Regions from separate parts of the Homo sapiens genome. Here all the other regions are linked to region 1. Evidence: fine-mapped expression QTL. A gene starts in region 1. Each other region holds a variant in brackets. All regions are shown on one strand. Distances are between the middles of the regions. Region 1 holds the start of RASL11A (RAS like family 11 member A). Region 2 has its middle 47 kb from the start of RASL11A. Region 3 has its middle 26 kb from the start of RASL11A. Region 4 has its middle 32 kb from the start of LINC00412.

The links. PIP is the estimated chance that this variant, and not a neighbour inherited with it, causes the effect.
Region 2: its variant is fine-mapped to the expression of RASL11A in whole blood (INTERVAL, PIP above 0.99).
Region 3: its variant is fine-mapped to the expression of RASL11A in cerebellum (GTEx, PIP above 0.99). The same link has a PIP of 0.9 or more in cerebellar hemisphere.
Region 4: its variant is fine-mapped to the expression of RASL11A in whole blood (TOPMed, PIP above 0.99).

The regions. Positions count from the first base shown.
Region 1 is chr13:27,269,335-27,272,020 of GRCh38, forward strand. RASL11A (RAS like family 11 member A) reads left to right here and starts at 1,496. Exons shown (of 4, transcript NM_206827.2): 1 at 1,496-1,734; 2 at 2,150-2,206; 3 at 2,305-2,384. The coding sequence starts at 1,611. RefSeq lists an enhancer at 958-1,458 and silencers at 1,407-1,626, 1,667-1,896.
Region 2 is chr13:27,316,605-27,319,290 of GRCh38, forward strand. No RefSeq gene overlaps it. Among named protein-coding and RNA genes, the nearest start is that of RASL11A, 47 kb to the left of the region's middle. The variant C/T (reference allele first, on the strand shown) is at 1,378.
Region 3 is chr13:27,295,441-27,298,126 of GRCh38, forward strand. No RefSeq gene overlaps it. Among named protein-coding and RNA genes, the nearest start is that of RASL11A, 26 kb to the left of the region's middle. The variant C/T (reference allele first, on the strand shown) is at 1,320.
Region 4 is chr13:27,203,946-27,206,631 of GRCh38, forward strand. No RefSeq gene overlaps it. Among named protein-coding and RNA genes, the nearest start is that of LINC00412, 32 kb to the right of the region's middle. The variant T/C (reference allele first, on the strand shown) is at 1,132.

The sequences.
Region 1 (2,686 bases):
ATCACAGCCAACAGCTGCCAGACATGAGTAAGGCTATCCAAGGGCAGCCAGCCCCCACTTCCAGAACCTGGAAGCTCCCTGCAGATGCATCAAAGGGCTCAACAACTGTAAGTGATTGTTGTTCTAAGCCATCTAGTTTGGTGTGGCTTGTCATGCAGCAAAAACTGGTACAACCAGGGTAGAGAAAGGTATGAATTAGGGTGGGGCTGTCTAATAGGCGATTAGGCAAGTGAGGCTGGAACACAGGAGGTCAGAGGCATGAAGGTCTTCTAACTGTTCAAGGTTAAAGTCCTGAGGCTTCTGCTGTGCTATTTCTGGTGGGCTCCAGAAATCCAAGAACCAGTCTATAGCTCTGTGTCCTGTTCCTCACACTGCCCCCCACCCCACCCTAGACCCCACCATGCACCTAGAAGTAAATATTTGGATACTGAAGCAAATGCATGACTCAAGCACATAGGATAGTATTAATGATGGACACTTAGTGCAGGGCCAGGGCCCCCAGCCAGTGGAGTGCTCATGAGTGTTCAGGAATGAGCCAGTGCAACCCCTGCCTGCAGAGGAGGGGCTGGGCATGGATACTGAGATGCTAACCATCACTGCCCCTAAGGGGACTTCATCTATCCCTAGCAAGGTCACAGTGACTGCAGTTGCCTCCACTGATACTAATTCAGAGCTCTTGCCCCCCGCCCCCCGCCCTTTTCCCATATTAATGTTACCCCTTAGCATCTTTTCTTTTCTTTCTTTTTTTTTTTTTTTTGAGACGGAGTTTCGCTCTTGTGGTCCAGGCTGGAGTGCAGTGGTGCCATCTCGGCTCACTGCAACCTCCGCCTCCCTAGTTCAAGCGATTCTGCTGCCTCAGCCTCCCGAGTAGTTGGGATTACAGGCGCCCACCACCACGCCCCGCTAATTTTTGTATTTTTAGTAGAGACAGCGTTTCGCCATGTTGGCCAGGCTGGTCTTGAACTCCTGACCGCAGATGATCTTGCCCACCTGGGCCTCCCAAAGTGCTGGGATTACAGGCGTAAGCCACCGCGCCCAGCCCCTTAGCACCTTTTAAAAATAAAAAGGGCAGCGTTTTACAGCAATCTGTCCCATTGTTGCAGAAACATCCAACTGATTGCACTTTTTCTTCTTCTCTCGTCAACTCGTAACTCCTATCTCAAGTTCACCCACAGGTCTAGTGACTCCGGCTGGCTGCTGCGGGGCGAGGAGACTCGCAGAATGCCTGACTAGAGGCCACTCGCGCGCTCTGGACGGTGGCCGTATCTCCAGGGTCTGAGCCCCGGAGCCGCAGTCCTGCCGCAGAGCGCCTGGAGCCGCGAGCAGCTAGCAGCCCGGCGAAGCGCACAGCCTCGGCGATAGTCAGCTCCGCGGCCTCTGCTCCCGCCCCTCCCGGCCGCTCCGGGAAGGGGCGGAGACGAGGAGGAGCTGGGACGGCCGCCGCGCTCCCGGGCGCACCAAGCCCTTTAAAAGCCGCGGGCCTTGACAGTTCTGCAGGCAGCCGCCGCGGTCCCGGACCTCTAGTCCCGCACTCCCAGCTGGCGAGCCGGCTCCGGGTGCGGCGAGGCCCAGCCCTCTCGGATTGCGCGCCGGACCCCGGGACGCGCTCCATGCGGCCGCTCAGCATGTCCGGGCACTTTCTGCTCGCACCCATCCCCGAGTCCTCCTCGGACTACCTACTGCCCAAGGACATCAAACTGGCGGTGCTGGGCGCCGGCCGCGTGGGCAAGAGCGGTGAGTGCGGCGGGGACCCCCGGGCGGCTTCGCTCCCCGGCTCCGGCCGCGACCACTGGGGGCGCTGCGGAGAGAGGGCGCCTCGGCCGAAGCAGAGGGCGCGGGTGCAGGTAGAATCGGGCTGCTTTCGCGCTGGGTGGGTCCCGGTCCGTCCCGGCCTGCTTCCCTGGCGTTTCCTGGTGCATCTACTCCTGGGATCTCGGCGGGATTGGCGCCTGTTCGGGGATGGGGTGCGGGAGAGGTGTCCCGCCAGTCGTACTCGCGGCCAAGCCCGCGGCACCACGGCTTTGCGGAGCCTCTGGAAGCGAGCAGTGCCCACGGTTCTGCACCCTTCACTCCCCCCAGTTTGTCCGAGGTGCCTGGGTTTGACAGGCTTGTTCTACTCCTTCGGTTGATTTTCCTATTTCCTTTTCAGCAATGATCGTGCGCTTCCTGACCAAGAGATTCATTGGAGACTATGAACCGAATACAGGTGAGAATACTTTCACGCTCCCTGCTTTTATGCTTGCGTGTTTCTTTTTACGGATGGGAGTTTGAGAATTAAAAAGCAAACTCTACTTCATTCTCCAGGCAAGCTGTATTCACGGCTGGTCTATGTCGAGGGGGACCAGCTCTCCCTGCAGATCCAGGATACTCCCGGGGGCGTCCAGGTAAGAACCGCCAGGGGCAAACAGCTCACCCCCACCCGTGAGACCACCCCAGTGGGCACAGCACGTAGGGCGCCCATGCTGGGCGCAGGGGTCTGAGCAAGGCATCTAAACCGACCTGTGCGTTTAGAGGGAGGAATGGGCTGTCCACAGGTGGGGCCAGTGGTTGGGGTGTTAGAAACTCTCTAAGGGGGAGGCATGGTTAGAAGCAGCCTCCTCTTGTTAAGCACCTGACTTAACTTCACTTTGCAACCCTGGTGGGCCATCACTACTTAAGCAGGTCTCACCATTTCTTCCGGAGGTAG
Region 2 (2,686 bases), 47 kb after region 1:
GTGGGTGATAAGTGGGGCAAAGGGAACCAGCAAATGCTTTGCAGGCACTGGTGGGGAGGATGGGGAAAGGGAGCTAGGTTTCTTGTTTGTCTCTCCAGAATGCAGAACAACGATCCATGGGTGAGAGTTACAGGGAATGAGTTTCAGCTCAAGAGAAAGAAGAACTTTGAAAGTTACAATGGCCAGTGGAATGGGTGTTCTCATGAAGCAGTGGGTTCCTCCACACTAGATGTGCTCACACACCTGGCTGTCCACTTGCCAGAGGACATCATAGTAGATCGGCATCCAGTTACATGCCCTTTAAAGTCTTTTTTGCCTCCAAAAGTAATTGACTGGTTGATTGATTAACCGCAGAAGATGTCCCGAAGAAGGGTAACTTAGATTTAGAATGAAATAAACCCCAGGATTTAGTACAGTGGAGAGGGGCAGGGCCAGCCCTCAGCTGAAGAACAGTGTTGGGATGTGATGGAGAAGATGTGTTAGGGGCAACGACTGGAAGAGAGCAAATGTTTATGTCCAGAGCAAAATTCTGTTGTCAGAAATGGGGCTTTGTATGATGATGGATGTGTTCACTTATCCATTCACTCCACAAATATTAATTTTCTGGTATATTTATATAATGGAGTACTATACAACAGCAAAAAATAAATTAAGTACAGGCTGGGCACAGTGGCTGATGCCTGTAATCTCAGCACTTTAGGAGGCCAAGGCAGGAGGATTGTTTGAGCTTAGAAGTTTGAAACCAGCCTGGGCAACATAGCAAGACCACATCTCTACTAAAAATTAAAAAAAAAAAAAAATGCCAAGCATGGTGGTGTGTGCCGATAGTCCCAGCTACTTAGCCTGGGGTGGGAGGATTGCTTGAGTCCAGGAGTTTGAGGCTGCAGTAAGCTATGACTGCATCACTGAATGCCAGCCTGTGCAACAGAGTGAGACACTGTCTAAAAAAAGTAAATATATAAAAATAAATAAACTACAGTTGCTTGTATCAACATGGATGTATCTCAAAGTCATAATGTTGAATGAAAAAAGTAAGTCACAAAAATATAGAGCAATGTATGATTCTAGGAGTATACAGTAGAAAAAAAAAGCAAAATTAAACAACATGTTGTGTAGAAATGCATACAATTGTGAAATACTCTTCAAAAAACGCAAAAAATGATTGATATAAAGTTCAGTATGCAGGTACCTCTTGGAGGAGGACAGGGCTGTGCTCAGGGGAGAACACACATGGGCTTCTAAGATGCTGGTAAAGGTCTGTTTCTTAAGCTGGTTGGTGAATACACATGTGCTTATTTTATTACCCTTAAATCTACATATATACACTTCATGCAGTCTTTTGAATGTAGGACATGGCCATGGTAATAAAAAGAAAAA[C/T]AAAGAATAGATGAGCATTTAAATTGAGAGGGCACACCAAGTCTTAAGCCAAAGAGTTATAAGTAAATCCACACAGACGCAGCGGAGTACAATAGCAGAACATCAAAAGCATAGAGAAAATCTTCCACACCGCTAGAAAGATAGTAATCTAAAAACCAATAATACTGGGCCGGGTGCGGTGGCTCACGCCTATAATCCCAGCACTTTGGGAGCCCAAGGCAGGTGGATCACCTGAGGTCAGGAGTTCGAGACCAGCTTGACCAACATGGTGAAACCCCGATTCTGCTAAAAATACAAAATCAGCTGGGTGTGGTGGTGCATGCCTGTAATCCCAGCTACCCTGGAGGCTGAGGCAGGAGAATCGCTTGAACCCAGGAGGTGGCGGTTGCAGTGAGCCGAGATCACAGCATTGCACTCCAGCTTGGGCAACAAGAGCGAAACTCCATCTCAAAACAAAACAAACGAACAAACAAAAACCAATAATACTTCAACTTACAGCAGACTTACCTGCAATAATAGATGCCTTCAGTGACCTAAATGGTATCTTCAAACTGCTGAGAGAAAATAACCACAAACCAGAATTCCTTACCTGTGAATTCTACCCAAGGTATAAGGTGTAATAAAAACATCTTTAGACGTAGACACCAAGAGAGGTCACCCCTCACAAAACCTCACTGGAAGAACTACTGATGGAAGTTTCTTTTTTTTTTTTTTTTTTGAGGCAGAGTCTCACTCTGTCGCCCAGGCTGGAGTGCAGTGGCATGATCTCAGCTCACTACAATCTCTGCCTCCCAAGCTCAAGCCATCCTCCCACCTTAGCCTCCTGAGTAGCTGGGACTACAGGTGTGTGCTACCACACTCAACTAATTCCTGTATTTTTTTTTTAGAGGTGGGGTTTCACCATGTTGCCCAGGCTGGTCTCAAACTCCTGGGCTCAAGTGATCTGCCTGCCTTGGCCTTCCAAAATGCTGGGATCACAGGCAGTTAGTGAACTGTTGAAACAGTGGTACAAGAAATTGATCATGAAGAGTCTTGAAAGCCGTAGAAGGATATTGCGTTTTATTTTCAGTGCAATGAGAGTTCTTAGCAAGCAAGTCAAAGACATGATCTGTCTTTCTTTATTTTTATTTTTATTTTTGAGATAAGGTTTGGCTCTGCCACCCAGGCTGGAGTGCAGTGGTGCTATCACAGCTCATTGCAGCTTTGTTCTCCCAGGCTCAAGCAACCTTCCCACCTTAGTCTCCCAAGTAGCTGGGACTATAGGTGTGTGCCGCCACCACACCCAGCTAGGTTTTTAAAAATTTTTTTG
Region 3 (2,686 bases), 26 kb after region 1:
ACGGCCATCCCTAGAGGCAAAAGGAGTCTCAGGCTGGTCATCACACTTGGCATTCTGGAGTGTTCAAACATTTTTCATGAATGCTAACTCATTTAGTCATCAAAGAACCCTGCGATTTAGGCAGAGTGAAGCTATTATTTTCATTTTCAGGAGGAAACTGGGGCTCAGAAAGATGAGGTGCCACGTGCAGGGTCTCATAGTAAGGATGAGGGAGCACAGAGATGAGAGCCTTCTTTCAGTCACCACTCCTACGCTCTCCCAAGCCTTGGGCAAACATTAAGAACTCTGTGCCCTTGGTTGTCCCGTCACCAGCATTAAACTGGCTTATCTGGTGACATAGTAAGATTTTGACAGCAACCACTTATGCAGTGCTGATGATGATCCAGGCACCTTTCTATGTAAATGCTGTACATGGATTCACATCTAACACCCTTATGACGTTAAGTCCTGTTATTGTCACCTGCACTTTACAGATGCAGAGACTGAGGTGTGGAGAAGTTATATCGCTGGCCCAAGATTACACAGCTGTCAAGAGGCAGACTCAACCTTCACACCCAGGCAGTCTGGCTGCAGGCTCTGCTCTCTTTGCTACTATGCCATAACTGCCCCTCACTGAGAGGCCTCTGTCTGTGGTCAGGATGGTCAAGACCACATGGAGGCCAGGAAGGTTGTTACCTGCCACAGGGACAGAACCATTGTGTCCTTCCAAAATTCATAATTCAAAACCTTCCCCACTAATGTGATGGTATTGGGAGGTGGGGCCTTTAGAGGTGATTAGAATTAGATGGGGTCCTGAGGGTGGGGCCCTCATAGCGGGATTGGTGTCCTTATAGGAAGGGACACCAGAGAGCTGGCTTCCTCTCTTTGCCCCGTGAGGACACGGTGAGGAGGTATAATCCAGGAAACAGGAGGAAGACCCTCCCCAGACATCGAATCTGCCAGAGCCTTGAGCTTGGATGTCCCAGTAACCAGAATGGCAAGAAACTACTGTTATGTAAGCCGCCTGGTCTGTTGTGTTTTGTTATAGCAGCCGGGCTGACTAAGACGACTGCCATCCCCCCCCACCAAGTGAGCACTCTGTGCCCCAAATCAAGCCCTGGAATGCCCCGAAGTCTGAGCTCCCTGGAGCCCGAGCTCCTATCCCTCCAGCTAGCATCAGCGGTTCCTGGTGTCCCTCCATCTGGTTTGGCTTCACATTCCCAGCAAAGCGGTCCAAACTAGGTCAGTAACAGCAGGAGCGGGTGGCCTGTGCTTCCTGCATCCTCCTGCTCCCTGAGCAATCTGGTCCAGTGGCTGAGAACAGTATCTCCTCAGGCTGC[C/T]GCAAAGCCCTGCTGAGGAGGACAGTGATTCAGGCTGAGTGTGTCTTAATGGTTCTGTCTGCTCCTTCTTTGCATGTATCAGAGCCTGCTGCTCCGAAGAGGTTTTCAAGCTCACGGAAACAATGGGGCTGGCAGTTTTCAGTACAGAACTTGTGCTCACCAGAGGGGAAAGGGCTCTTAGGGCAGTGAGAACCCAGGGTATGCCAGGGGAGCTTCCAACAGCAGAGAGAAAGACCTTGGATATTTGTAGCCTCAGCTCCTCACCGGCTGTATGACCCTGGAGAGTATAGTCATCACAGTAGCACTTATGGGCCACTTGTTATGAATCAGGCCCTTTGCTAAGCATTTTACATATATGGTCTCATTCAATCCTCACAACGACCTGGGGAGAGCGCCTCATTTTATGGATAAGGATATTGAGGTCCAGGGACAAGGAGGCTGAGTTATTTGCTCAAGGTCATACATTTAGTAAACAGCTAGGATTTGATCAAGATTGTTCCTTGTTCTCTCTCTCCTTTCCTCCCTCCCATCCTCCCTATCTCTCTCTCCTTTCTTTCCTCTTTCTCTTCCTTCCACTCAACAAATATTTGTAGCATCTGTCTGACGCTATGCCAACGGGGAGGTACAGTAGTGAACACGACATTTTGGTCCCCACCTGAGGCTAACTACGCTCTGTTGTCTCCCAAGCCATTTAAGCCTTTTCCTGCCAAGCCCCACATGGAGAAAGCGACCCCTGTGAGGCCCCCACTGGGGTTCAGAAAGCAATACCCCAAAGTCTGGCACTTTGATATGCGGAGAGGACTTAGAAGCTGCCCAAGAATCAAGGTCCCTGTAACCTTACCTTGTCCTCTTCCCCCTACCTACATCAAGTGCAGAGAAGAGCTCTCTGAAATTTCCTTATCTGGCCAATAAAGCTTCTTTCCAAAGGATATGAAATTGTTTTAAGACCTCCTGCCTAGGGATCCCATCAAGTAACCAGGAAAAATAAACTGAAAGAGAAGAGGCTGGGTGTTATCAACACACCCAGACAGATTTTTCATCTATTCCTTTGAGGCCAGCTCCAAGAGATGACTTGGGAGATTTTGTCTGCATAAGACACCTTTTGTTCCTGTGCAGCCCCATCCCTCACCTTCCCTAATGCCTGCCTCCCACCTCCCAGGTCCTTAAGTCTCTTCCCTATGAAGAGAGTACTTAGGCCTCAACCATCCGGCCCTCTTTGAGTTCATATTGTGTATGACTCCTGTGGGCACACATGCATGTAAATACATTTTACATGCCTGTTTCCTGTTAATCACCTTTTGTCAGTTGATTTTTCAGCAAACCTTCAGAGAACAAAGGAAAATTTTCCCTTTGCTCCCACAACCCAA
Region 4 (2,686 bases), 65 kb before region 1:
CAGTCTCCTTGAATCTCCCCCTCCTTCATACCTTCAATGATGGGCACTGGCAATGGCTACCATTTTAGACTCGAGGTTAGACTATGACTGAATTGAAGTCATCATGCAATGGTACAGCAGTTAATAGGAATTTTGTGGGTGCCCTCTGCTGGGAACATAAGTATTTCACCTGGCAAAAGGATAAGGGTGAATGCTTGAGGGGATCCCATACTGGATAACTTCCATTTGCCCCATCTAGCTGTCTTCAGACCAGGGAGGCAGACCTGTATGGACCGCAGCAATGGGCTCTCTTGCCCTCTGCATTCTGGTTAGATTCAGCCAATAGAAAACATGGGCAGGAGATCAAAGGATGGAGAAAAACGAAGTTGAGGTCACTATTTCCAATTCCTCCCTTGCTGGGTCACTACGGATTGACTGTGTCCTCTACTAAAAGCTTTTCCCTGGGTTTTGGTGACCATTCTCTCCATTTGCCCCTCCACCATTCCGTTATTAACTTGGGTATACCACACCATTCCCTGTTACTTTCACAGAACCCTGCCTACACTTTTGTAATAGTACCTTTGGGGTTTTCTGTTTTTCTTTTTTTTGAGACAAGGTCTCACTCTGTCACCCAGGCTGGAGTGCAGTGGCATGATCACAGCTCACTGCAGCCTGGAACTCCTGGGCTCAAGTGATCCTCCTGCCTCAGCCTCCGAAAGTGCCGGGATTACAGGCGTAAGCAATGCACATGGCCTATAATATTGTTAAACTGCCCTTGATTACCCAGTTTGAAGGCATCATCTGCTTCCTGCCAGGAACGTGCCAGATACAACCAGGGCCTGTGCATGGCCCTGGGGTTAAAAAAATAAAGAAGACCTGGTTCTCAACCTCAAGGAATTTGTGCATCTTATAGTTGAAACAATTACGTAGAGAGATACATAATTCAAATGACATGTAACAAAATGCATAACAGGGGTATATGTGAGGCATGCTGTTCTACCAAGGAGAAAGTGATCAGCTGTGCTTCCAGATGGGGGTGGGCACGGGGGAACAGGATCACTGTCCCCCGCTCCAAGATGAAAGATTTCAACTGGGTCTTAACAGATAAGTGGAAAGTTAGGAATGCCTCCTCTACACATCCTCACAAATTAG[T/C]TGGTTCTTTGATTCACCCAGGTGGCAGAAATGCCTCCAGCAATGTCTTCAGTGTGACAGGACTAAAGGAGAGGGAGTTCAGAGAAGAGACATGTTCCACACCACTCTAAGAGAGAGGCAGATGTCAAGAACAGAGGCTGTGAGGAGGTGAGGCAAAGAGCAGCTTCCCTGCCATTTTCTACACTATCCTGCCCCACAATGATGATCTCAACTCCCATTGTATATCCTAGTTGCACTCAGACCTGGGCAACCTCAACATGCAGACCCCTTCCTGAAGGCAGCATAATTCTTAACCCCTACTAAGGAGGAATGACACAATGGGCTAACATTTAATAAGTTTATTATATCCTTACCAGACGAACAATCTATGCGGAATAGAGGGGACAAAGGAACATGTTAAATAACACCATAAAGTTATAATCAGCAAAATCTAAACTGTGGGAAGCCCTACAGTATCAACTGGTTTATCCCAAAAATAAATTGCAAGGGAAGCAAATGGTTTTGAAGAAACCCAAAGATTAAAAGAGGTCTAAAAGGGCCATGTGCAGTGGCTCATGCCTGTAATCTCTGCCCTTTGGGAGGCAGAGGCAGGCGGATCACTTGAGCTCAGGAGTTCGAGACCAGCCTGTGCAACAACATGGTGAAACCTCATCTCTACAACAAATACAAAAATTAGCCAGGTACGGTGGCATGCGCCTGTAACCCCAGCTACTCGGGAGGCTGAGGCAGAAGAATCACTTAAACCTGGGAGGTGGAGGTTGCAGTGAACTGAGATCGCACCATTGCACTCAAGCCTGGGCAACAAGAGTGAAACTCCATCTCAGAAAAAAAAAAAATAATAATAATAATGGCTAAGCCCTTCCTCCAGAGATTCTGATTCAATTAAACTGGGCTTTGGGTATCACTTTTTAAAGTTTTCCAGATAATGCTAATGATTTCTTAGAGGAATATTTTTAGGACCAAGTGACACAGTCAATTATTTCCAATTAATTAATGATGCATTTGAATCAACCATTCAATCATGTATTCATTTATTCAGTTTTCAACTCTATTGACTGAATGTTCTATTTCAGAAAAATTATGTCTATGAACTTTCCATTTTTTAAATAGTTTTTACCATCTCCTAAAAATGTTTACCTTTTTTTTCCGCTGGATTTTCATTGGTTAACTACATAATGAAATTAAACTCTGAACAGCATCTTTCCCACAAATTTCACACTAAGCGCTTTTTCTAGAACTAGACAATAGCAAAGAAGAACAAAATTAAATAGTCTAGACAAGGAAGAAAAAAATCTATTTTCAGTTTATATTTTATTAGCAGTAGCTTGTCAGTCAGATGATATGTTAAAATTACCCAGAATAAAAAAGGAATGAGGCCAGGTGCGGTGGCTCTCGCCTTTGGGAGGCCAAGGTGGGAGGATCACTTGAGGTCAGGAGTTCAAGACTAGCCTGGCCAACATGGTGAAACCCCGTCTCTACTAAAGATACAAAAATTAGCCAGGCGTGGTGGCAGACACCTGTAATCCCAGCTACTCAGGAGGCTGAGGCAGGAAAA